3 separate regions of the Homo sapiens genome follow, and regions 1 and 3 are each linked to region 2. The links come from fine-mapping of genetic effects on gene expression. A gene starts in region 2. Each other region holds a variant in brackets. All regions are shown on one strand. Distances are between the middles of the regions. Region 1 overlaps ELAPOR1 (endosome-lysosome associated apoptosis and autophagy regulator 1). Region 2 holds the start of ELAPOR1 (endosome-lysosome associated apoptosis and autophagy regulator 1). Region 3 overlaps ELAPOR1 (endosome-lysosome associated apoptosis and autophagy regulator 1).

Region 1 (7,656 bases), 51 kb before region 2:
ACAGTGATGAACAAGACAAGTATGATCCTTTCCCTCTTGGGGCTTGCATTCTCTTTCTAGTTGAGGAGACAGAAGCTTAACTAATCACACAATCACATAGCAATGACTGTGATAAGTGCCATTGGAGAAATGCAGGATGATAAAGAGAGTGTAACAGGAGTCTGTGGGGTCGGGGATGGTTTCTTTGAGGAAGGGATTTTTAGGTAGAGACCTGAGGGTTAAGTAGGAGACATAGAAGAGGGGACAGAGAGTCACATGTTCAAATGCCCTGAGGAGGGGAAGGAGTGTGATGGTCAGTGTGGCTGGAACACAGCAAGTGAAGACAGAAGGAACTTGGGAGAGGCTGGGGAAACAAGCAGAGGGCAGGGGGCAGGGCAGCAGGGCCCTGCAGGCTGTGGGAAGGTAGTGGACTTTATCCCAAGAGCAATTGGTAGCCATTGAATCTAGGGTTTTGAGCGGGAAAGTACTGTGACTGGATTTAAGGAGATGAGGCTGGGTGCAGTGGCTCACATCCGTAATCCCAGTACTTTGGGAGGTTGAGGCGGAAGGATCATTTGAGCCCAGGAGTTTGAGTCCAACCTGGGCAACATAAGTGAAACCGTGTCTCTAGAAAAATAAGAAGTTAGCCAGGTGTGGTGGCATGAGCCTGCAGTCCCAGCTACGCGGGAGGTTGAGGTGGGAAGATGGCTTCAGCCCGGGGAGGTTGAGGCTGCAGTGAGCTGTGATTGCGCCATTGCACTCCAGCCTGGGTGACAGAGTGAGACCTTGTTTCTTAAAAAAAAGAAAAAAGAAAGATGAATCTGGCTGCTGAGTGGACAGGCCTGGAGGAGGCTGGGAATGGAAGCAGGAGATGAGCTTGGAGTCTCTTGAGGCAGAGCAGGCAGGATTTGGGTAGCTGCACAGCTGAATAGGAAAGCCAAATACTTGCGCTCTAGGTATTAGCTCAATTATTGCCTTTCTGAGGGATGATGGGGAAACCACAAAAGCTCTCCAGATGGCCATTTCCTCTCCATTGACAGAGAAATATCCTCTCCCTCCCTCCCCGGGATGTCGTGGGATGCCTTAAGATGCAGGCCCTGAAATAGTCCGTGCGGTGGAAACACAAGTTGTTATTAACCCACCCACATCCTGCCTCTCTGAGAGATAATGATTTCTGGACTCTCGGTGCAGTCCCCAGAGAGAGAAGAAATCCTTCCTTTACATGGGTAGGAATTGACTGAGCCATGTCTGCACCTTGTCCAGGGCCTAATGACATTCTCAGTTAGGACTCAAATGGGAGTTGGTTGTCTTAACCCACACATTCCCGCTCCTTCCAGCTTTAAAGCTCTCTAGCTTTATCTCTGCCTCCAGTATTGTCATGCTAATGAATCTGACACACCAAGTTGAACTCTAAAATAACATAACATTAAAATTGGACTACAGATTAAATAGCCACTGCTTGGCTTAGACAAGATTTAAGTATAGGAATGGGAAACATTGCTCCCGGTTTTTAGAAATCCAAGTGTAATACAATTCTTGAGTCCTTCTTATCCATTTGATTGTTTGGGTATAAGTGAAACTTTCACTTGCTTTCCTCCTGTATTCACTGTCCATATTTAATAAGGAACAATATGGCTGCCTTTCACATCCTCATATCCCCCCACTTTCGCTCCCTAGGACCCAGTGTTGCCTTGCCCATAATAAATGTTATTTGAATGTGGCATTATGGAGCAGTGGAAGCTTGGGTTCGAATTTCAATCTCGCCGGCTGTAAACCGGATAACAAAGAGCAGGTCATAACCTTGCTGAGCTTCCAGTTCCTCGTCTCTGTAATAGAAATAGTAATGCCTATTTCACAAGGTTCTTGTGAGAATTAGAGAAAATAATATATGTAAAGCATCCAGAATAGTGCCTGGCCTACAAAAGACATATCTGAAATAGATATCCAGTTCTCCAAGCACCCTGGACTGAGCTTTCCAAGAAAATTTGCTAGTCATTGGGGTCTCACAGCATTTGGAAGATTTCAGCCAGCACTGGGCAAAGGCTAGGCAGAATCAGTTTCAGAAGTTAGCAGCCAAGGTGGCCCATGCCTGTAATCCCAGCACTTTGGGAGGCTGAGGCAGGTGGATCACCTGAGGTCAGGAGTTTGAGACCAGCCTGGCCAACATGGTGAAACCCCATCTCTACTAAAAAAATACAAAAAAATTAGCTGGGTGCGGTGGCTCACGCTGTAATCCCAGCACTTTGGGAGGCCGAGGCAGGTGGATCACGAGGTCAGGAGATCGAGACCATCCTGGCTAACACGGTGAAACCCCATCTCTACTAAAAATACAAAAAATTAGCTGGGCGTGGTGGCGGGTGCCTGCAGTCCCAGCTACTCGGGAGGCTGAGGCAGGAGAATGGCGTCAACCCGGGAGGCAGAGCTTGCAGTGAGCGGAGAGGGCACCACTGCATTCCAGCCTGGGTGACAGAGCGAGACTCCATCTCAAAAAAAAGAAAAAAAAAAAATTAGCCGGGCATTGTGGCACACACACCTGTAACCCAGCTACTCAGGAGGCTGAGGGAGGAGAAACACTTGAACCTGGGAGCTGGGGCTTGTGGCGAGCCAAGATGGCACCACTGCACTCCAGCCTGGGCGACAGAGTGAGACTCTGTCTCAAAAAAAAAAAAAAGAAGAAGAAGAAGAAGTTAGCACCCAAGCCGGGAAGATACCCAAGCTTTGCATATTGTGTTCCAGTCAAGCTGAGAAAGTATATTGGCTGATCTGAAATTCCGTGGTGGAAATCCGGTTGGTTTTTTTGGTTTTTGTTTTTGTTTTTCTTTTTTTTTTTTTTTTAAGACGGAGTTTCACTCTTGTTGCCCAGGCTGGAGTGCAATGGTGCGATCTCAGCTCACTGCAACTTCCGCTTCCCAGTTCAAGCGATTCTCCTGCCTCAGCCTCCCGAGTCGCTGAGATCACAGGTATGCACCACCAGGCCTGGCTAATTTTTTGTATTTTTAGTAGAGACGGGGTTTCACCATGGCCAGGTTGGTCTTGAACTCCTGACCTCAAGTGATCCACCCGCCTCGGCCTCCCAGAGTGCTGGGATTACAGGCGTGAGCCACCGCGCCCTGCCGGTTTTTGTTTTTCAATGAGACAGGGTCTTGCTCTGTTATCCAGGGGTACAGTGGTGCGGTCATAGCTCAGTCTAACCTTGAACTCCTAGGCTCAAGTTATCCTCTTGCCTCAGCCTCTCGAGTAGCTGGGACTACGGACATGCACCACCACACCTGGCAAATTTTTTAACTTTTTGTAGAGACAGGGGTCTCGCTATGTTTCCCAGGCTGGTCTCAAACTCTTGGCCTCAGGCAATCCTCCCACATTAGCCTCTCAAAGTGCTGGGATTACAGGGGTGAGTCACTGTGCCCAGCTCCAATTGGGTTTTGTTTTAAATAGACTGGGCCATTTAACCCTTGCCCCCCTTGTCCACTCTCTTATTTCCTCATGTTTTTTACCTCCCACAAATGCCTGTCCATCACTGGTAAGTTTAGGCCAGTAAGAGTGGGCCAGGCAGAGTCACATCCACTGGTCTTGCGGGCACAGCTGCAGGCCTCACCCTGGCAGCCTGGCTTCCTCTTCCCTCCATCCTCCCTGCCCAGCCTGAGGGGCAGCGGAGGAGGCTGTCCAGTGTGCCCTGTAGCCCCTTACCCAGTGGGCTGGGGGTGGGGTGGGGGTGTGTGCAGACTCACGAAGTACAGTTCCCGGTGGACTCAGCAGCACTGTCATCCAGCTCCATGTTGGCTGAGAGGCTGGCAAAGCCATGGGGCAGCTCATCCCACTCATCAAACCGAATGCCTGTGCCGAGGGAGTAGCGGCCCTCAGCGCATGGCTTACATGACTGGTCCTTCATATCCAGAAACTCCCCGGCGTTGCAGGAGAAGGCTGGAAAACAGGGCAGAGACAAGGTGGGGCAGTGAGGTCACTGCAGCCCCAGAAGTGAATGGGCTGCGAGCAGCTGAAGGGAGGAGCGCTGGGTTGGGGTCTAGGAGTTTGGCCCACTAAGATTTAGGGCCATGGCATTTACTGTGTGATTTGATTTTATTTTTCTTAAAAAAATTTTTTTTTCAGCAGTGATATTCCTTGCTATGTGTCATTCTATTTGTATGGAACGGCCAAAAGAGG[T/C]GAAGCCATAGAGACAGAAAGTAGATTTGTGGTTGCCAGGGGCTGTGGGGAGGGGCCTGGGGAGAGATTGCTAATAATATGAGGTTTCTTTTTAGGATGATTAAAATGTGAAATGAGAGTGATGATGGTTGCTGTGAATATTCTAAAAACCACTGAATTTTATCCTTAAAGGAATGAATTTCATGGCATATAAATTATATACCAATAAAGCTGTTATAAAAAAAATAGATCTAGGGCCACGGATGCTCTGCCTTGCTGTGGGACTTTGGGCTTGTTCCTGGCACTCGTTTCCTTTGGAGAGGTGCCCTGACCATTCTGAGAGCTCTCTGGTGAAGAAGATGCCAAGGTCTCTTGTGCTGACCCCTCTGAATGACACATGGCCCTTCAGCCTTGAATTTCTCCCTTGAGCCTCTGGCCTCTGCCTTTCTGGTTGTACTGCCACCATGCTAGGTGGAATTCTCATGACCTGTTAACTCAATCATTGCAATATCCTCCTAACTAGTTCCCTATTCTTATTTTTGCTCATTCTGTGGTCAGAGGTACCTTTCTAAAACAGATGTGATCAGGCACAGTGGCTCATACCTGTAAACCCAACACTTTGAGAGACCAAGGCAGGAGGATCACTTGAGCCCAGGAGTTTGAGGCCAACCTGGGCAACACAGTGAGACCCTGTCACTACCAAAAAAAAAAATGTTTAAATTAGCTGGGAGTGGTCGCGTGTGCCTGTAATCCTAGCTACTCAAAAGGCTGAGGTGGGAAAATTACTTGAGCCCAGGAGGTCGAGGCTACAGAGCTATGATTGCACCTCTGTACTTCAGCCTAGGAAACAGAGTGAGACCTTGTCTTTAAAAAAATAAAAAGTAAAACACGTATGTACTATTATTCTCCTTATTTTAAAAATAAACAGGCACTCCCTTTTGGTTCTAGAATTATGCTCTTGGCCTGGCATTCAAAGTTTTCCACGATTTCCCTGCAGCCTAACTTCCCAGCTTGACCTCCCACTACAAATCTTTTTTCACCTCAACTCCATCCATCACCTTCTCTGTGTTGCCTCTACCCTGGACCACAAGCTCTTCCTCAAATGTGTCACTCTTCATCCACGTCTAAACTTTTGCTCAAGTGGCCCTCCCAGCTATGCCTGATCCCTAAATATTCGTAACTCTCATTCTTTCTCATATCATATATGTCTGCCACCCACTAGGCTCTGCGCTCCTCTGGGGATGGCTGGCTCAGTGACTGGCACAGACTGGGAGCTTCATGAATGTTTCTGAAACAATGAGTGAATGAATGAATGTCTGCACTTTCCACCACCCTAAGCTTCTGAAAGCAGAGAGTGTGCCTTATTTGTCTTTGCAGTTCACACTGCATGTGCACATCATGGTGCTAACACATAGTGGGACTCACTGAAGTCAGCAGAGTTCAATGAAGATGGCTCATTTGTTTCCACTAGTCACACCTCAGTTCTGCTCAGGTCTCAGCAATATCCAGTCATTAATTTAACAAGTATTTATTTGCTCACTTACTCAACCAGGCACTGTACTAAGCTGATTTTAGAATTTAAATATCTTCAAACTCCTTTCCAACTCTTCAGATAATTCCTTAAATCTAGTGCCTGGTTTTTCTTGTTATTCCCTTTGCATTCCTAAAAGAATAATGCAGGGGAAACAGCTGCCAATTGTAGAAAAGTTGTGACTGCAGAGTCACAGAGGCGGGTGCTGGGGCTGCGGCAAGCCACTGCCTTTCCTATTGCACAATCAGACCCACAGTCAAGAAGATTCTTGTCTCCTGAAGTGATGCCTGGAGCATTTTAAAGGACGTCTCTGCAGAAACTTAGCCTCTCTGACTTCCTTTTTAAGAATGAAAGCAAATCTCAATCTTGCCTAATGACTGATTGTGGCTGGTGAGTGAGTGTAGATTGGAGAGACATACAAGGCAAAAATGAAAATGTATGCAAACAGAAAAGAATATCTGAGTGCACACAGCTGGCATTGCTTATGCTGTATCCACTGATGGGATTTAAATTCCTTTAAAAAATGAAAGCAAATTCAGATATCCAGTTTGCATTCATGAAATACTTCTGCACCAAATCTCATAAGGGTCTGGGATGTGGGGACTAATTGGGGAAAAGATCTGATTCCTTAATGCAGCTGCTCTGCCAGGAAGGGCCCAGATTGGATGGCAGGAGACTTGGGGGAGAGACCAAAGCTGAGTGACAGGGAGGCCCTGAGCAGGATAGCTGCTTACAGCACTCGGTGCCCTTGATGGGGTCAGGCAGGCTGGTGCACAGGCCCGGGGTATGCGGCACGGCGACCCTCCACCTGGAACCCGTGCTGTCACACGCCGTGTACTCATAGTGGTACTCAGACTGCAGGGGAGAGAACAGTGGGCGAAATGTGCATTAGCAGTGATCAAACATTAACAGCTTCCCACCCACTTCCCAGCACCATGGCTACTGATGCTCATCCTCTCAGAAATGGGCCCTGGGACCCCGGGCAGGGAGCTGATGATTATGAACCGAGTACAAGAACTACAATGATTTGGATCATTCCCTTCCACCCAGCCATGGTCTAGTCCCTAGAAATCATTTTTGTGTGTGACTCTCTTTGTTGTTATGTTTAAGTAGTGTCCTTATGGAGCAGAGGAACGTGGGAAAGGTAACTAAGGAACAGGCTAGAAATAGGTGGAATTTTTCTTATTCCAAAGTGTAGAATTTATGAACGAGGACATTCTAAATGGAAGGATGTTCTAAATGGAAGCCTTAGTCCACAAAAAATTTACAAAGGCTCCTCACAGAAGTGGTATGTATTTCTATTTCCCTGTGTTTCTTTTTTTTTTTTTTTTTTTTTTTTGAGACGGAGTCTCGCTCTGTCGCCCAGGCTGGAGTGCAGTGGGATGATCTTGGCTCACCGTAACCTCCGCCTCCTGGGTTCAAGCGATTCTCCTGCCTCAGCCTCCCGAGTAGCTGGGACTACAGGCGAGTGCCACCACGCCAGGCTAATTTTTGTATTTTTAGTAGAGACGGGGTTTCACCATGTTAGCCATGCTGGTCTCAAACTCCTGACTTTGTGATCCACCTGCCTTGGCCTCCCAAAATGCTGGGATTACAGGCATGAGCCACCACGCCTGGCCCTATTTCCCTGTGTTTCTTATGCTCCTTTCCACTCAGAAAGACTATGAATTCCCAATTGCATTTTATGAAAATATATTTGGCCGAGGCAGGTGATGTGCTCTCACTTGAGCCTGTTCATCCCTAATTTGTCTGTGCAATGGGAAACTCATAGTTTAATTGTTTTACCTGAGCTAAAAATAAATGGAATAACAACAAAACAACCAAATCAAGCATTAAGTAAAACAACAACAACAAACAGTTCCACTCAGAACAAAGAAAACACAATTGATGTGCCAAATGCCCTTAAGCGTTTCTTCCTCCTTTAAATCTGGTAATAAACAACAGACCATGGAATTAGTGATGATTTTGGCTCTGACAAGTATTTTACAATCTACACTTACCTAAAA
Region 2 (7,656 bases):
CAGCTTTCTGCTCCTCTTTGGTTTGATTTGCTTCACTGCACCTTGGGAAATGCTCCTTTGGCTCGCAGTCAGCACTTAGCCTTGGCTAAAGAAACGATTCATGAAAACGAATATCATACAGGATGTTTAGTTCCATTTGTGACCCTGATTATTATAAAACTGTGAGAGGAATGCCAAGCCCCAGCACATGTCCAGCAGTCTAGAACTCCCACTTTGCCACTTCAGTTTAGGCCTCAAGCTAAACCTCTCCGTTTCCTGATTACATCCAGAGGGATGCCTCAGCTTTCACGAACAAGGCTGGAACAATATTATTGTCATTAGGGTCAGCCTTGGCCTGATAAGAGTCCTGCCATCAACACCCAACATCAGCTCACAAGAAATTCGTATGAAGATTAAGAACAGAGAAGAGTGGCTGGGCACAGTGACTCACGCCTGCAGTCCCAGCACTCTGGGAGGCCAAGGCGGGTGGATCACCTGAGGTCAGGAGTTCAAGACCACCCTGGCCAACATGATGAAACCCCATCTCTACTAAAAATACAAAAATTAGCCGGGTGTGGTTGCACATGCCTGTAATCCCAGCTACTTGGGAGGCTGAGGCAGGAGAATTGCTTGAGCCTGGGAGGTGGAAGCTGCAGTGAGCCGAGATCATGCCACTGCACTCCAGCCTGGCCTGGCAACAAAGCCAGACTCTGTCTCACCAAAAAAAAAAAAAAAAAAAAAGAACAGAGAAGAGCTGGTCTACCTTGAATTGGTTTTTCACCATTTGGGGTTGGAAGCCCCCAAACTTGTTTGATCAGTTCATATTGCCAAATGAATACTATAATAATGGGTTTATTCTCTCCCTGATTGTTTTGGAGTTGAGGGTGTTCAATGGCCACTGTTTGCTCAAGGAGAATGTAAACAGGACTTGCTGACGCCTGTGGCAAATGGGCATGCCTCCTAAGCCATTTCCAATCTGGCATGGGGTGTGGATCTAATGGGAAAGAAGCTGAACAGAGAAGGAGGGTGGGTAACTCTCTTTTGTGTTTCCAATGTATTTTCTATTTCAATACTCAAAGCAATCCTTTCTGAGGTAGGTGTTATTTTGATACCCATTCTACAAATCCAAAAACCACGTGGTAAGTAACAGGACTGAAACCCTGGTAGGTTGAGCTCCATAGCTTTCCACTACCTTAAGCTTACACTTTGTGGCAAGACCTTTTGCTTAGGCAAATATTGGTTATTCAAACAGGACCAAAGGCAAAATTCGTACACAAGTTCGAGTTCTCAAGTATCAATATTCTTCCCTTCCTCCAAACCAAGATAATAGAAGTGCTTAATTTCTGAAATGTCTCATATTTTCCATTGTTGACAAAGATCTCAACAAGAATTGGTAGTTAAACTGTATGATTCTTACCTTCCACTCAGGAAACTCCCTTGTTTGATTCTTAGGCAAGTGGGCTTTCTTGGTCTCATTATTTTGGTTGGTTAGACCACAGGCCATCAAGGCCAGTGAGCCAGTCACTGATAAGATCATACTGTTCCCTGCGATCTCTAAAACAGGTCATAATGCGGCTAGGTGGAAATGTAGATGGCCCAGGGCAGGTTGTCATTGGAGCTAATAAAGGTTATCAAAAGTCCCACTCACTGGGGTCACTTATGTCATATTCATGAATCTTCAAAATCAAGTATCTTTATTCACACAAAAATCCTCCCCCCCACACCTGACTTCTTTATGACCTGCTGTGCTGTAGACACAGAACATCTTTATAAGAATTTATCTCCATATGGGATGGAGTTGTTGCCAATCAGTTCACACTAACAATTTATAAAAAATATTCTGGGCTGGGCGCAGTGGCTCATTCTTATAATCCCAGCACTTTGGGAGGCCGAGGTGGGAAGTCGCTTGAGCCCAGGAGTTAGAGACTGGCCGGGGCAGTATATCGAAACCTCATTTCTATTTTAAAACATATATTTTTTAAAGTAAAGAAAATACATCTATATATATATTCTAACCTCTCAAAACCTTAGTCAAGCTTGATATTTGGGATTAAATTTACAGAGCTAGATGCTTGACTTTTTATGAAGTCCTTCACATTTCACAGAAATAACAGAACTTTTATTTTGCCTTCCCCAACGTAGTTCTTGTAAATATCTTATTGTTGCCTCTGCCATATGGTTTCTAAAAAAGTTGCTCAGAGCACAACCAAATATTGTTATTTCAATAACATAGAAATGACTTAGTTTTGTTGCTGCTAGTGCCCTTTTATGTTCCTCCAAGATGACTTTTCAAAAGCTATTTTTGGTTATAAGAGATTGACTACCTATTGTCTGAATTCTGCTTCCAACATATTGGAAATACCTTGAAAAAGACTTTGACATATGTTAAGTCAGAGAAGGAGACTAGAGGTTGGCAGAACACAAGATATTGAAGAACTCAAAATCTGCAAAAAGGTGAGTCGTGTACTGTCAGGTACACTAAACATAGTACGCTGCGGGGAGGCCAAGCTATAAGGAGGAGACACATTTTACAGTCTGCACTAACCGATGTTTAATAAACAAGGAACTAGAGAGCTGGAATCCTATCATCCCTCTCGCACATCTCCCACCTTCACACTCCGTTTTGTGTAGCCATGATAAAACCACTTCGCTCTGATACTTTTTTCTGGCCTTCCTAACTCCTTTCCTCTCCCACTACTCTTCTTTCCTCTTCCTATTTTGCTTCTCTGTGCATAATCTTTTCTTGTCAACCACTTTTAAGGTGAGTTCATCCTAACTGGAAAATAACTCGTCTGCCTCCCTCATTCTGAGTTCAGGTACCCAGGTAGCTCCCCTTCTTGGGGCTGGGACCTTTCTCGCTGAGCTCAGCATCCCAATCTGTGAGGATGATCTATCCGTGAGTCCTCCAATGTGCTGGCCTCCTCATGACGCCAGACTGGCTCCTCTTCCCTCCCCCCACGCCTCATCCCCAAAGAAATCTAAACTCCGTGGCGTCTGAAACTCTCTGCGCCTGGGTCCCCAAGGTCTCCGCCTGGATCCAAGACTTTTGTGACCAAAGCGGGATCGGGTAGGGGGGCGGCAGTACCTCTTTGCAGGCATGAAGCTCCGGTCCCGTTCCCTGGGTCACCTGGAAGGCGGTCCCAGCCCAGAGCAGCAGCCGCCACAGCCGGGGTATGCGCCTCTCAGTTCTTCCCCTGACTCTGGCGGAGAGATGGTGGCTGTGCCCAGGCTCAGCCATAGCGTTGTCCTGAGTGAGCGGCAGTAGCGGCTCAGGTGCTGCGGCTGCTGCTTCTGCTGGCAGAAGGCGGAAAAAAAGGGGAGGGAGGTACACAGGCGGAGGATGCAAGAGGCCAGGCTCGCTTCAGTCACCTCCCTGCGGCTACGCCAACACCGCCCATCCTTCCTCCTCCCTCTGTCCTCTCCTCCTACCCACGTCGCCTTGACAACCGCCTCCTCTCTGGCTCCGCGCGGGTGGGGCAGGGACCACGCGCGCCTCTGCAGCTCACCTGCGGGTCGCCATGGCAGCCGCCGCCGCTGGTGCGCGCGGCGTGGGCGCGGGAGAGCGCGCGCCCGGGGTGCGCAACCGGCCCAACAGGCAGGCCCGGGGCTCGTGTGAAGAACACAGTGGAAGCATCCTCCAAGCCAGCCAACAAATTTCCGTTTTCTACTGCCCTTTCGGGCCAGGGGTTATTTTATGAGCATCTCCGATGTTGCACACGTGGCGTGTGAACCGAGAGAAAGAAGATGGAGAGATCACCCTCCAGACGTCGTCGCCTGGAAGAGGCCCCAGTACGTGTTCCCTCCTACGAAGGCCACTCCTGGAGATCTTACATCCCGCCAAATCCATCCGTGCTTTTACAACCGGCTAGAAGAGAAGCCCTGACACTGTAGTTGATCCGAGTTTAAGCGAGGAGTTTGCCTTAGCCGCAATTTCCCAAGCGCCGCACGTGGGCCTCTCTCTCTCTCTCTCTCTCTCTCTCTCTCTCTCTCTCTCTCTCTCTCTCTTTCTCTCTCTCTCTCTCTCTCTCTGAGACAGGGTCTCACTCTCTCGCCCACACTGGAGTGCAGTGGCGCGATCTCGGCTAACTGCAACCTCCGCCTTCCGGGTTCAAGAGATTCTCCTGGATTAGCCTCCCGAGTAGCTGGGACTACGGGCGCGTGCCACCAAGCCCAGCTAATTTTTTTCCTACTTTTTGTAGAGACGGGGTTTCGCCATGTTGCCCAGACTGGTCTCGAACTCTTGGGCTTAAGCGATCCGCCCGCCTCCGCTTCCCAAAGTGCTGAGATTACAGGCGTGAACCACCGCGCCCGGCCCTCTTTGGTCTCTTGACATCCTCATTCTCTCATGGCTTTGAAAGCCTTTTGTTAGGTGCGAGGGAGAAGGAAATTTCTGGGTCATCTTTCAGGACTTCTTTCCTCAACTGAAGTCTTTTGCAGAAGTCCTGATGGTGAGCAGCCAGCACTTTTCCGCCGAGGCTCAGGAGTGCAATTCCAAGTCTCGGGCCCGCTCAGCGGAACGTTCCCTCTGCAGTCCCCGGAGCTTCCTCCCCAGGGGCCTCCCGTGGTCAGCCGCCAGGTGGCGCCCTCCTCTGAGGGAATTCCTCTGTCATAGATGGCTGGGCAGTTGCCTGGCAACCGAAACCAGCGCTCCAAACAATTGGGACCCGGGATCTTATGCCAGTGAGGCTGTGCTGCGGCTGAGCGGGCCTCCCATCCCTCTTAAAAGAGTTAGGCATTTAGCCATGCCTCCCACCCGGGACCCTTTCCAGCAGCCTACATTAGATAACGATGATTCCTACTTAGGAGAACTGCGGGCTTCCAAGGTACTGTGGTTTCTTGCGCAGATTCCCAGTAGGGTCGCCGGTAGTCTTCTTTCTGTCTGTGTGATGAGCAGAGATGGTAACATAAAGGACTCTGGTGAAGACACTCAGTCGGGTACCAGGGAAGTCTGTTTTCTGCCTGCCTCCCTATCTCCATATTCAAGTCGGCTAACGTTTCAGAGGCGTTTTTGAGCAGAGGAAAGTAGAGTTCTAGTCTAGAGGAACAAGGGGCTCTGGCAGCTCAAATCAATTGTGAGTATAAGTTATGGCAGTGCCCAGGTTCCTTCAAGCTACCCATTTCCCTATTTGGAAGACTGTTCTCTGAAGAGAAATGAGATATGGAGTGGGAGAGAATCCTCTGAAAGCCACCAGAGGTCATGCTTTACACATCTGTGTTCACACTGTCTCTGTCTTCTGGTTAACACCACAATATGTTTGTTATGTGTGTGTTTAGCATGATGGTGGACACTGATTTCGGAACTTAGATGATCTTTTTTCTGGTAGAAGTGATTGGGATATATGAAGTGGTGCACAATAAGATGAATTAAGTGGTGATTGTGGTCTAATAACAATATTGAGAGCCCCTTTTTATTTATTCAATACTTATTTACTATAAGCCAGACACTCTGCTAAACGCCAAGGATATATAAATAAATTAGATGTAGCTTCTGCTGTCAAGGAACTCTAGTAGTAAAGAGAGACCGACAATAGCAAAAATGCTTGCACAATAGCACATGTTGTGACAGAGTTGTGTGCAGGGTGCCGTGAGAACCAGGAACTTAAAGGAAAGCTTCACAGAGCAGATGCATTTTGATGTCCAAATATGAGTTAGGTAGGCCAGGTGAGGGAGTGGATAGAATGTGAGTTAGGAAGAAGGAAACAGGAACCAGATATGCAAGGCAAAGGAAGCAGCAGGTGCAAATACATGGAAAGGAGAGAGAGAATGGCTTATTTGGGGAACTGCAAATAGTCTAGAAGGGCTGGAGTGTAGGCGTGCAATGGAAGCACTCAGAAATCAGAGCTGGAGAGATGCCCTTGGTTGGCTGGGTGTGCTGTGTACACCATGCTAGCTAGCTATGGTTTCATCCTAGGGATGTGAGGAATCATTGTGGGATATTTTTTTTTTTTTGAGACAGGGTCTCCTTGCTCTGTCACCCCAGCTGGAGTGCACTGGTGCAATCTTGGCTTACTGCAGCCTCGAACTCCTGGGCTCAAGCAATTCTCCCACCTCAGCCTCCCAAGTAGCTGGGACTACAGGTGATGCCACCACACCCGGCTAATTCTTATTTTATTTTTTTGTAGAACCAGGATCTTCCTTTGTTGCCCAGGCTGGTCTCAAACTCCTAGCCTCAAGTGATCCTCCTGCTTTGGCCTCCCAAAGTGCTGAGATTACAGGCATGAGCCATGGGTCCCAGCCCCATAGCAGGATTTTAAGTACCACAGTGACACAATCAGATGGGTGTTTTAGGAAGCACAAGTGGCAGCAGACTGGATAGGATGAGAGTGAGACAAGAGGGATCAGCTAGGAGGCAGGTGAGGTGATCTCCAGGAGGAAGAGTAACAGATCTACAGCAGTGCCACAGGGGGTGGTGATCAGGTGCAGATGTGAGAAAGGTGCACAGGGCAGGACTGACAGGACTTGGAGACTGACTGGACATGGGCCCAAGAGAGGAGGTGAGTCTAGGATAGCTGCTGGGTTCCTAACGGTTTAATTCTGAGGTTTCACTGAAATGGGGCATCCTGGGGAAGCAGGTTTGGGGAGAAAGATGTTGAGAAACATCAACTATGTAGATGTTTTTGTAGTGACTGTGGTATATTTAAGTGAAGGTCAATAGTAGGCAACAGGATTGAGAGTTCTGGATTGAAGATGTATGACTGAGCTGTGTATCCGTATGAGCTATGGTACCCATATGGTAGTTGAAGCCATGGAAGGGAATCAGCTCATCCAGTGGATGTGAGCATAAGAAAAGTAAAAATGAGACCCTTGGAGAATAGCACTGCCTAAGGGACAGAGAGAAAGTGGAGCTGAGACAGTAGCTGAGAGATAAGGGCCAGAAATAAGAGGAAAACCCAGAGGAGCTGGGCCCACAGAGCTTGGTGAGGGCATTTGAGGGAATCAGCATTATGGTGCCAGAAACAGCTGAGTTCAAATAAGATCAGGCCTGGAAAGGATCCACCTGACCTGGCCACAGAGATCATTGATAACTAGCAAGAGCAGTTTTAGGGGGTGCTTGAGGCAGAGGCCAGACTGCAGTGAGCTAAAGAGGGTATGGGAATGGTGAGTGAGGAAGTAGAGATAGTAAATATTGACTCCTGAAAAGGTCTGGTTCTGTAGGGAAGGTGACAGGCTGGTAGCTAGACCACGACAAAGAAATGAAGTGAGGCTGGGGTCAGAAGAGAGCGTATGCAGAATGGTACAGGTCTCAGAAGACCAGGGAAGGGTGGGTCTGGGGAGAAAGGGTTATTCTTGAGTAAAAGGGACTTTCCTTTCCCTGAGATGGAAAGAAAGTGGATGTAAAGATGGCATTCATGCTTGACAGTCTGGACTTTCTCAGTGAAAGACAGACTCATCCTTCTGCTGACAGAGATGACGAGGTTTAAGTGGTCTTCAAGGAGAGTGGGAGGAGTGCTGCTCAGGGCCACATCAAAGGACAACTGAGCCTATGCTGGCATCAAATACCTGTAGCTTTCTTTCTTTCATACTTCATTCTTCTCAGTGATAGCACAGTGCCTGATACACACTGTTCAATTAAGGTATGACTCACAGCGGGGCACGGTGGCTCATACCTGTAATTCCAGCAGTTTGGGAGGCTGAGGCAGGTGGATCACCTGAGGTCAGGAGTTTGAGACCAGTCTG
Region 3 (7,656 bases), 74 kb before region 2:
TTTGAGAAGCACGTCTATCATAAGACTGTAAATTGTTGACATTTACTCAGCAGCTGTCTCTCCAGCACTGGGGAGCTTTGCCGGGGTTAAAGGAGCAGAATTTGTGATCCAGCAAAGTCCTCCGTTTGGTCCTACTTTTGGGAAAGAGAGAGCCATGCCCAAGCGGGCTGGGGTAGTAGTGGGGATGGGGGATGAGGCAACACTTTACTATGACGATCAGATTTGCAAATTGGAAAGTACTTTTTGAATGTTATTCCAAAAAAAGCCTAAAAAGTTTGCTCACCTTGCAAACACAGGCTTCATTCATCTGGCTAGCTCTGAGTAATGTGTGTTAAGGGAAGGCAAACTGAGCAACATCCCAGGGATGGGAAGCAGGGACCTCGAAGAAGGAAATGAAGGTGTCAGACTGGCACTAGGGAAGCATATTCAGTGCCTGCTTCTTATCTTTAGAGCACATATGGGCAGAAGAGTTCACTTTGGCCTTGGAAATTCATTCACGGCTTTCCTTTTGGCTTTAGCCATTTGCCTGAATTCTGAGGACCTCCAGTTCTCAGCTTATCTCTATGCAGCTGTGTTAACCAGCGGGCTGGAAAAGCCATCTGAACCTCAGTTAGTCTTAAATCACACACTGTTTTTATGGATGAGGGGCCCGAAGCCTGAACAGGTGAAGTGACTTTTCCTAAGGTCGCACGGCCAGTAAGCGGCAAAGCACAAGTGCCCTGTCTTCCAGTCTGGTGTTCCTTCCACCACACCACACTGCCAGGAGGTGTGTGTGTGTGTGTGCGTGTTTGTTTGTTTGTTTAGTGGGAAACAAATTTCGTGTTGCCCTAGGTCTTCCTGGGATATGGGGACAAATACAGTAAGAATAATCCTTCCCAATCTTCTTGCCCCAAATAAAGATGAACTGTCTATGGGCATTTCTGACCCCATTATTTTTTATTTTTATTTTTTTTCTAATCTTAAGTGATGCTGTGAGGAGGAAGAATTTGAATAGCACGTGACTAATGGCTGGGAGAAGCTATACGGGAGAGAGAGCAGTCGGTAAATCAACATGGGCAGCAACTTGAAAAACGTGATAGCATTGGGTTACCTCGGTCAAACTGTACCCTCTGTTCTCAACTGACATTTGAAATGAAATGAAACACAACCCCGGAAGCCCTCTCCTCTACAATATTCCAAAATACGTGGGATTCGGATATGGCCAAGCTGGCCTGGACTCCCCTGGGCTTTGGATTCCTCACCTAAATCCTGGCACAACCAGAGTGAGAATCATGAAGTCATTGTCTGAGGCTCCAGCAGCTGTGTAAATGTGATCACCAGCCACCTCCCAGCCTGAAAAGGAAAGAGGAGAGTTAATGCCTTGTGCTCTTGGGTGCAAGGCAAATGTGCACCCAGATGACACTCTGGAAGGGAGGTTTGACACCATCTTTTGAGGCGCCCAGAACCACCACTGAACATGAACCGTGTTACTTATCCTGCCACTTTGGTCAAAAACCCTGAAGCTCTCAGAGCAAGACCTTTGAAGTGCACGCTCATGTTTCTAGCTCTGTTCCTTCCTCTAAAGCTGTCTTGGCAGAACATATGTCCATGAGGAGTGGAACTTTCAAGGGAATGCATGACATGGTTAGCTTATTTTTCTCAGACATCACTATTATGAAGAAATGTGAAGTTGGAAGAACTGAGGGTGTGCAGGGAGCTGACAGCTCATGGCACAGGGAGAGGCAATTACCTGTCATGCCCTTGTACTCGAAGTTGATCCCACTGAGAACGGTCGTTTCCATGTTTGTGGGCAGCGTGTTCCACCATTTGTATTCAAATCCCACAGCAGGTTCAGTCCCTGCAGGGCAGCGGGTACAGTCTGGGGAACCACAAACAAGATCCATGCATTCAGTGGGAAGGCTGCAGTCACTCTGACTGGAGCTGCTGCCACACAGACAAGTTGCAACAGTAGCGGGCAGCCCAGAAGCCTGGCTGCTGAGTACTGCTGCAGGAAGTTGTATCAAGTTGACTCAAAAACATTCTGACAATGTATTTAACTCAAGATGTAAACACTGAGCCTTCATTCCAATATGCCAACCATCCTATTTGCCCACCCCAATTTCCATTTCAAAACTTAAATGTACCTTCTAGTCTGATACATATAGTTCATATTATTGTCATATTATCATTAAATGCTTTCATTTTAACAGGTACTCAAATCCCCCCAAGGCAGCATGGCTTATAGGTTTTGGTTGTGTGGGGTTGGTCATCCCAGCCCTGTAAGCCTAGTCAGCATCTCTGCCATATGCTGGAAGCCCTGCTTTGAGGATTGGGCACCTTCAGTCCTGAGTCACATTTGCAGTTGGAGCAAGGAGGAAGGAAGGCAGCCTCAAGTATGACTCTGACCTGCAGACGAGGCCAGCCCTGACCTCTCTTCTCCTGAATTTAGTCCTCAAAGGTGGCCTGGTCCTTATTCCTTACTGCCTCCCTTGGAAGGGCAGAGTCTGCATTCAGCTGGCCACTGTTAGTGCCCACACAGCCCACCCACACAGTCGATGTGCTGCAGAGAGTGGGGTGGTGAGGAGGTTACCTGAGCCATTGGAGTAGGAACCATATGGGCAGGGCTGGCAGGTGCTGTTGTTGGTTTTGAAGAAGCCTGGGTTGCAGGGTGGGCAGTGGGTCTTCACACCAGAGGCAGGCAGCTTCACTGCCCCCTCAAGGTCCTCGCTACAGATTTTCGGCTTGGCCCATTTGTACATGAGTTGTGTCTGCAGAAATGGATTAAGCACAACTCAGCCTGTGTGAGATTTAGGACATCTTTGGGACTCTACCTTGAGGATAGGGGCTGGGGGCAGAGATCCAGATTCTGGGCCAGGTAAGAGCTCCTCTGGGGTGGGGAACTTTGTGTGGCTCACGGATGTATCCCAAGCACCTAGCCCAGTGCCTGAGTCATGGTTGTGTTCAATCACTATCTGCCAAATGAATGTTGCCTGGGTGACAAGGAATAGCTCTAATGAAGACTTTATGACAGAGAATGTGGGACCAGTTGTCTTAG[A/G]GAAAGCTCCGATTCCACTGTAGAATCTTATTGCTACCAAGGTCACAGGAAAAGCAGCTGGTGAAAATCCCAGAACACAGAAAGGCACAAGGGTGGAGGTGGCTCAGATGTCCCCCGGGGACTGAGGGGGTGGCTGAGATGTCCCCACTTATTTTTTGAGTGGTACATTCTTTGCTCTTTTATTTATTGGGTAAATCCTAATGCATCTATGTGCCAGACCTGGTGTCTCAGAGATGAATGAAACATGGCCCCTGCATTGGGTACAGAAGTGGAGATGACCCGCAGGAGACCCCGGCTGAGTCAGGGGTGAAGGTGGGCAGCTCCATTCTTCCCATGTGGCCCTCAGATCGAGTCACAGACAAAAACGTGCCCTTATAGGTTGAACTGAGGGGTTGATGAACATGATCTGTGCAGATACCATACATATGAAAAGAAGGATGAATAAGGCCTCTGTCCATATTTTTCAAGATAAGAAACAAGTCCTTAAGGAGGGACACAGACTGCCTTAACTGATGGGGAGCCCTGGGCTCCTCCTTCCCCTGCTCAGCTCGGCCCTCTTCCCTGCGGAGGGCTGCGACAGCCAGAGCCCCAGGCTTGAACCTCACCTGCCTCCTGTGAGTCTCAGGGAGAGGAGAGTCCTAGGAGCTGGCAAACTGTCTCGGGCCAGCTCTTGGAGCAGCACATTCACTGACCCCAATGGATGGGCCATCCTGGTCCCTGAGAAACAACTGAGGCACAGCCAAGGTCAGAAATGTAATCATAGGAGCCAGCTCGAGGTGTGTCCCTTGATTTTAAAATACTGTTCAGAAGACAAACTCAATCACCAGACTGAGCAGAACCAGTGCGGGAATGAGGCACAAAGCAGAAGTCTGCAAGGAACAGCTGGGGAATGCATGTTCATGCGCACTCCTGAAAGCACACGCTTCAGTGCTCCTCCTCTGAGCTGGGCCTTGGCTGTGCTGCAAGGCGGGAACACAGGCTTTGGTCTGACCCAGCATCTAAAGGCCCCGGCAGTGGTCAGGCCAAGGCAGACACCCGGGCTTTCAGGCAGCAAGCACGGTACTGACCCAGAAGGCCTTGGCGTGAGCCCAGGGAGGGAAGAGAATGGGGCAGAAGGGAGGAAAGACAGCCACATTCAGTCACATGTTATGAACAGGAGGGAGAAGAGCAGCAGGATTAATTGTCTGCCTTTTATTAGTGAGTTGGCTGAGACCAAGAAAATGAAAATAAATGTTCACAAGGTCATACAGAATACCAGACACCACAGAACTGAGTCTAAGGTGCAACTGACAAGACACAGCCATTCTCTCTTGGCTGCTGGAGAAGGGGATGATGCCCCAAATACGTGGGGGAGGTGGTGTTGGTAAGAGATGACTGTGCAAAATATTCATTGTTAAGGACCAGACTTTAACCCATGCTTAGTTAGGAAAGGGAGAATTCAGTCAGCCGCCCAGCCAGCAAATGTTTATGCTCCCTAAGAGCCAAGCATCATGCTTAGTGCTGAGTGCAGAATGCCCAACTCCTAGTTCTATCCTCTTGAGAATCTCTAGCTTAGGGATACAGACAGCTCAGCCAGATCCTTCTCCGTGCACCTCAAGCCCTTCCCTGCTCACTTACACTGTTTCTCCACCCACCTGGCCCAGCTGCCGCCTCCTCTCCTGCTGTGTCTGCTGCCTGGAAAGCTCCACGGCTCCTCCCTCATCTCCTTCAGGTCTCTGCTCAAATGTCACCTCCTGAGAGGACATCCCTACCCTTCTAAAATAGTGGCACCACCCTCCTTCATTCTCTCTCTCCTAATCCTGGTTTTTTTTTTTCCTTCCTACCACTTACTACCATTTGCTATATTATATACCCATTTGTTGTCTATTATCTCTCTCTCCACTCCCTCCCCAACAAGAGTTAAGCTCCATAAGGGCTAGATGTTCCCTCAGTTTTGTTAAGTGATGCATGCCTAGCACCTAGCACCGTGCCTGGCACAGAGTCGCTCCTCGATAAATATTTGTTGACTGTTGAACAAATGGCCTCCTCTGAGAGGCTTTCTCTGCTGCCCCCACCCCAAGTCCTGGTCGCTTCTCTTCTGGGCTCCCCCAGTTCCCTGCACATCCCTCTGGTTGCCTTGACTGGGCCCGTTTTTCTCCTCTCTCCAGCCTCTCATACAGGACTGTGAGCTCCCTGGGGGCAGGAGCTTGTTTCAGTCGTCTCTGACTCCCCAGCCTATAGTGCCAGGCCTGACATATCAGTCAGCCTCAAAAAATGCTTGTTGACTCAGTGACAGTGTAGACTAGGAGGGAAAGTTCTTTTCTGAAGCAGAAAGCCTGGAGGAAAGAGAAGCAGCAGAAACGGAACAAGTCAGACCATAGGCAGGAATCCATTCCCCGTGCCAGCCCACAAAACAGTGCCGAGGGGGTGAGCCTGAAGAGCCCCGGGAGGACATTGTGTACGGACAGGCAGGCTCTGCCGGAGTGGCTCGGCAAATAGAAGAAACCAAGCAAGAGAGAATGAAGTGGGTTTTTGAAACAGAACATATGTGCATAAACAGTGAAACAAACGCTGCAAAAACAGTTTCTGACCGGAAAATGAATGAAGAGGTCTCGTTTTGCCCCCCACCCCACCTAGCCCTAGGGTCACCTCAAAGGTCTGTGGGGTTTTAACTAGTGCCAATGTCATTGACTGCTGAAGTTCCAAATGGTGGCAAACCTCAGGGAGTGGGAGACAGTCCATCTGGGGCTAAGGGGCTCCAAGACTGTACTACCCACCTCTCCGTTGGCATCGCAGGCCGTGTGTGTGTAGAAATAATCTTTGTCTGTGCAAGCTGGGCGCACGTTACAGGAAGAAGATCCTTTCTCTAAATTGCCAAAGCAAGAAGAAATATTTGGAGTTACATAAGAAAGCTGAGCTCCTGGCCTCTTCATGGCCCTGTGACTCCCAAGTCCCTGGGTGCATTGCCACACAAATATTGCCGGAAGTAGAAAATCCTGCACACTCACCCTTCCCCTTGTCTCAATAGTGTCATTTCCAGTTCCCCAACCCTGCTCAAGCTTCCCTTTGCACCTGTTCCAGGTGCTGATGAGAAACCACTGTTTGCCGCTTCCCGTCCCCCGCCCCATGGGGCAAGGGAGGGAGAAGTGGCCTGGCCAAAGGACCAGCAAGGAGGGTAGACGGAAACAGCTTCTTGCAGGTTAACCACTGCCAACCTAAGTTCCCTGAAACCTGGGGAGGTTCAGAGAGTTCACCATCTTCCAGGTGCCTTAGTGTCTTGACTCTGGGTGTGGTTTTTCTACTCCTGAAGTGTTGAAGTAAAACATGATTTTGCTTTCATACTCATTCCAAGCCTTTCTATGAATGTTCTAATATATGCCTAGAATGAAGGCCTTCCACCTTGGAAATTTCCTTTTCTTCATGCAATCATTCTACACAAACCAGGTTTGTAATTTCCTTGGACTCCACCTAACACATAAGGTTCTTCCCACTTGCCTCAACCCAAGCATCCCAACACTATCTTTATTATTATTATTATTGAGATGGAGTTTCACTCTTGTTGCCCAGGCTGGAGTGCAGTGGCACGATCTTGGCTCACTGCAACCTCCGCCTCCCAGGTTCAAGTGATTCTCCTGCCTCAGCTTCTTGAGTAGCTGGAATTACAGGCATGAGTCACCATGCCTGGCTAATTTTGTATTTTTAGTAGAGACGGAGTTTCTCCATGTTGGTCAGGCTGGTCTCGAACTCCTGACTTCAGGTGATCTGCCCTCCTCGGCCTCCCAAAGCGCTGGAATTACAGGGGTGAGCCACCGTGCCCGGCCTCTTTATTATTATTTTATTATTGTTATTTTTTAGAGACAGAGTCTTGTTCTGTTGCTGAGGCTGGACTGCAGTGGTACAATCTTAACTCACTGCAGCCTGGAACTCCTGGGCTCAAGCGATCCTCCCGCCTCCCGCACCAGCCCAACACTATCTTTAACTCTTGATTTATACCTAATGAAAAATGTTAACTGCTGGGCATGGTGGTTCATGCCTGTAATCCCAGCACTTTAGGATCTCTTGAGCCCAGGAGTTCAAGACCAGCCTGGGCAACATAGCAAACCCTGTCTCTACAAAAAATACAAAAATTAGCCGGGCGTGGTGGTGCAGGCCTATAGTCCCAGCTACTTGATGTTGAGGCAGGAGAATCACTTGAGTCCAGGAGGTTGAGGCTGCAGAGAGCCATGATCATGCCATTGCATTCTAGCCTGGGCAATGGAGAGAGACTCTGTTAGGAAGGAAGGAAGGAAGGAGGGAAGGATGGAAGGAAGGAAGGAAGGAAGGAAGGAAGGAAGGAAGGAAGGAAGGAAGGAAGGAAGGAAAAGAAAGAAAGAAGAAAAACGTGAACTATCAGTTTTCTTCTGCTCTCTGCATGTTCTCCTCCTTTCAATGTTAGCTCTGCTTTAACCCTGTGAACCTCTGGATAGTGAGAACTACTTCTATGAATTCATTTTTTAATTTTATTTTTTTCATTATTTCATCATAGGGTTTGTTTTCTTTTCTCTCTCTCTCTCTTTTTTTTGTTTTTTTTTTTTTTTTTTTTGGTAGAGACAGAGTCTCGCTATGTTGCCCAAGCTGGTCTTGAGCTCCTGGCTTCAGGCAAT

What was found. PIP is the estimated chance that this variant, and not a neighbour inherited with it, causes the effect.
Region 1: its variant is fine-mapped to the expression of ELAPOR1 in whole blood (INTERVAL, PIP above 0.99).
Region 3: its variant is fine-mapped to the expression of ELAPOR1 in whole blood (TOPMed, PIP above 0.99).

Annotation. Positions count from the first base shown.
Region 1 is chr1:109,160,743-109,168,398 of GRCh38, reverse strand. It overlaps ELAPOR1 (endosome-lysosome associated apoptosis and autophagy regulator 1), which reads right to left. Exons shown (of 22, transcript NM_020775.5): 2 at 6,385-6,505; 3 at 3,708-3,900. Among named protein-coding and RNA genes, the nearest start is that of SARS1, 49 kb to the left of the region's middle. The variant T/C (reference allele first, on the strand shown) is at 4,141.
Region 2 is chr1:109,109,745-109,117,400 of GRCh38, reverse strand. It overlaps ELAPOR1 (endosome-lysosome associated apoptosis and autophagy regulator 1), which reads right to left and starts at 3,286. Exons shown (of 22, transcript NM_020775.5): 1 at 3,065-3,286. The coding sequence starts at 3,217. CFAP276 (cilia and flagella associated protein 276) reads left to right here and starts at 4,654. Exons shown (of 5, transcript NM_001245025.3): 1 at 4,654-4,802. The coding sequence starts at 4,722. RefSeq lists a silencer at 3,465-3,534.
Region 3 is chr1:109,183,268-109,190,923 of GRCh38, reverse strand. ELAPOR1 (endosome-lysosome associated apoptosis and autophagy regulator 1) reads right to left here. Exons shown (of 22, transcript NM_020775.5): 8 at 5,791-5,879; 9 at 2,570-2,747; 10 at 1,730-1,858; 11 at 1,242-1,332. Among named protein-coding and RNA genes, the nearest start is that of SARS1, 27 kb to the left of the region's middle. The variant A/G (reference allele first, on the strand shown) is at 3,035.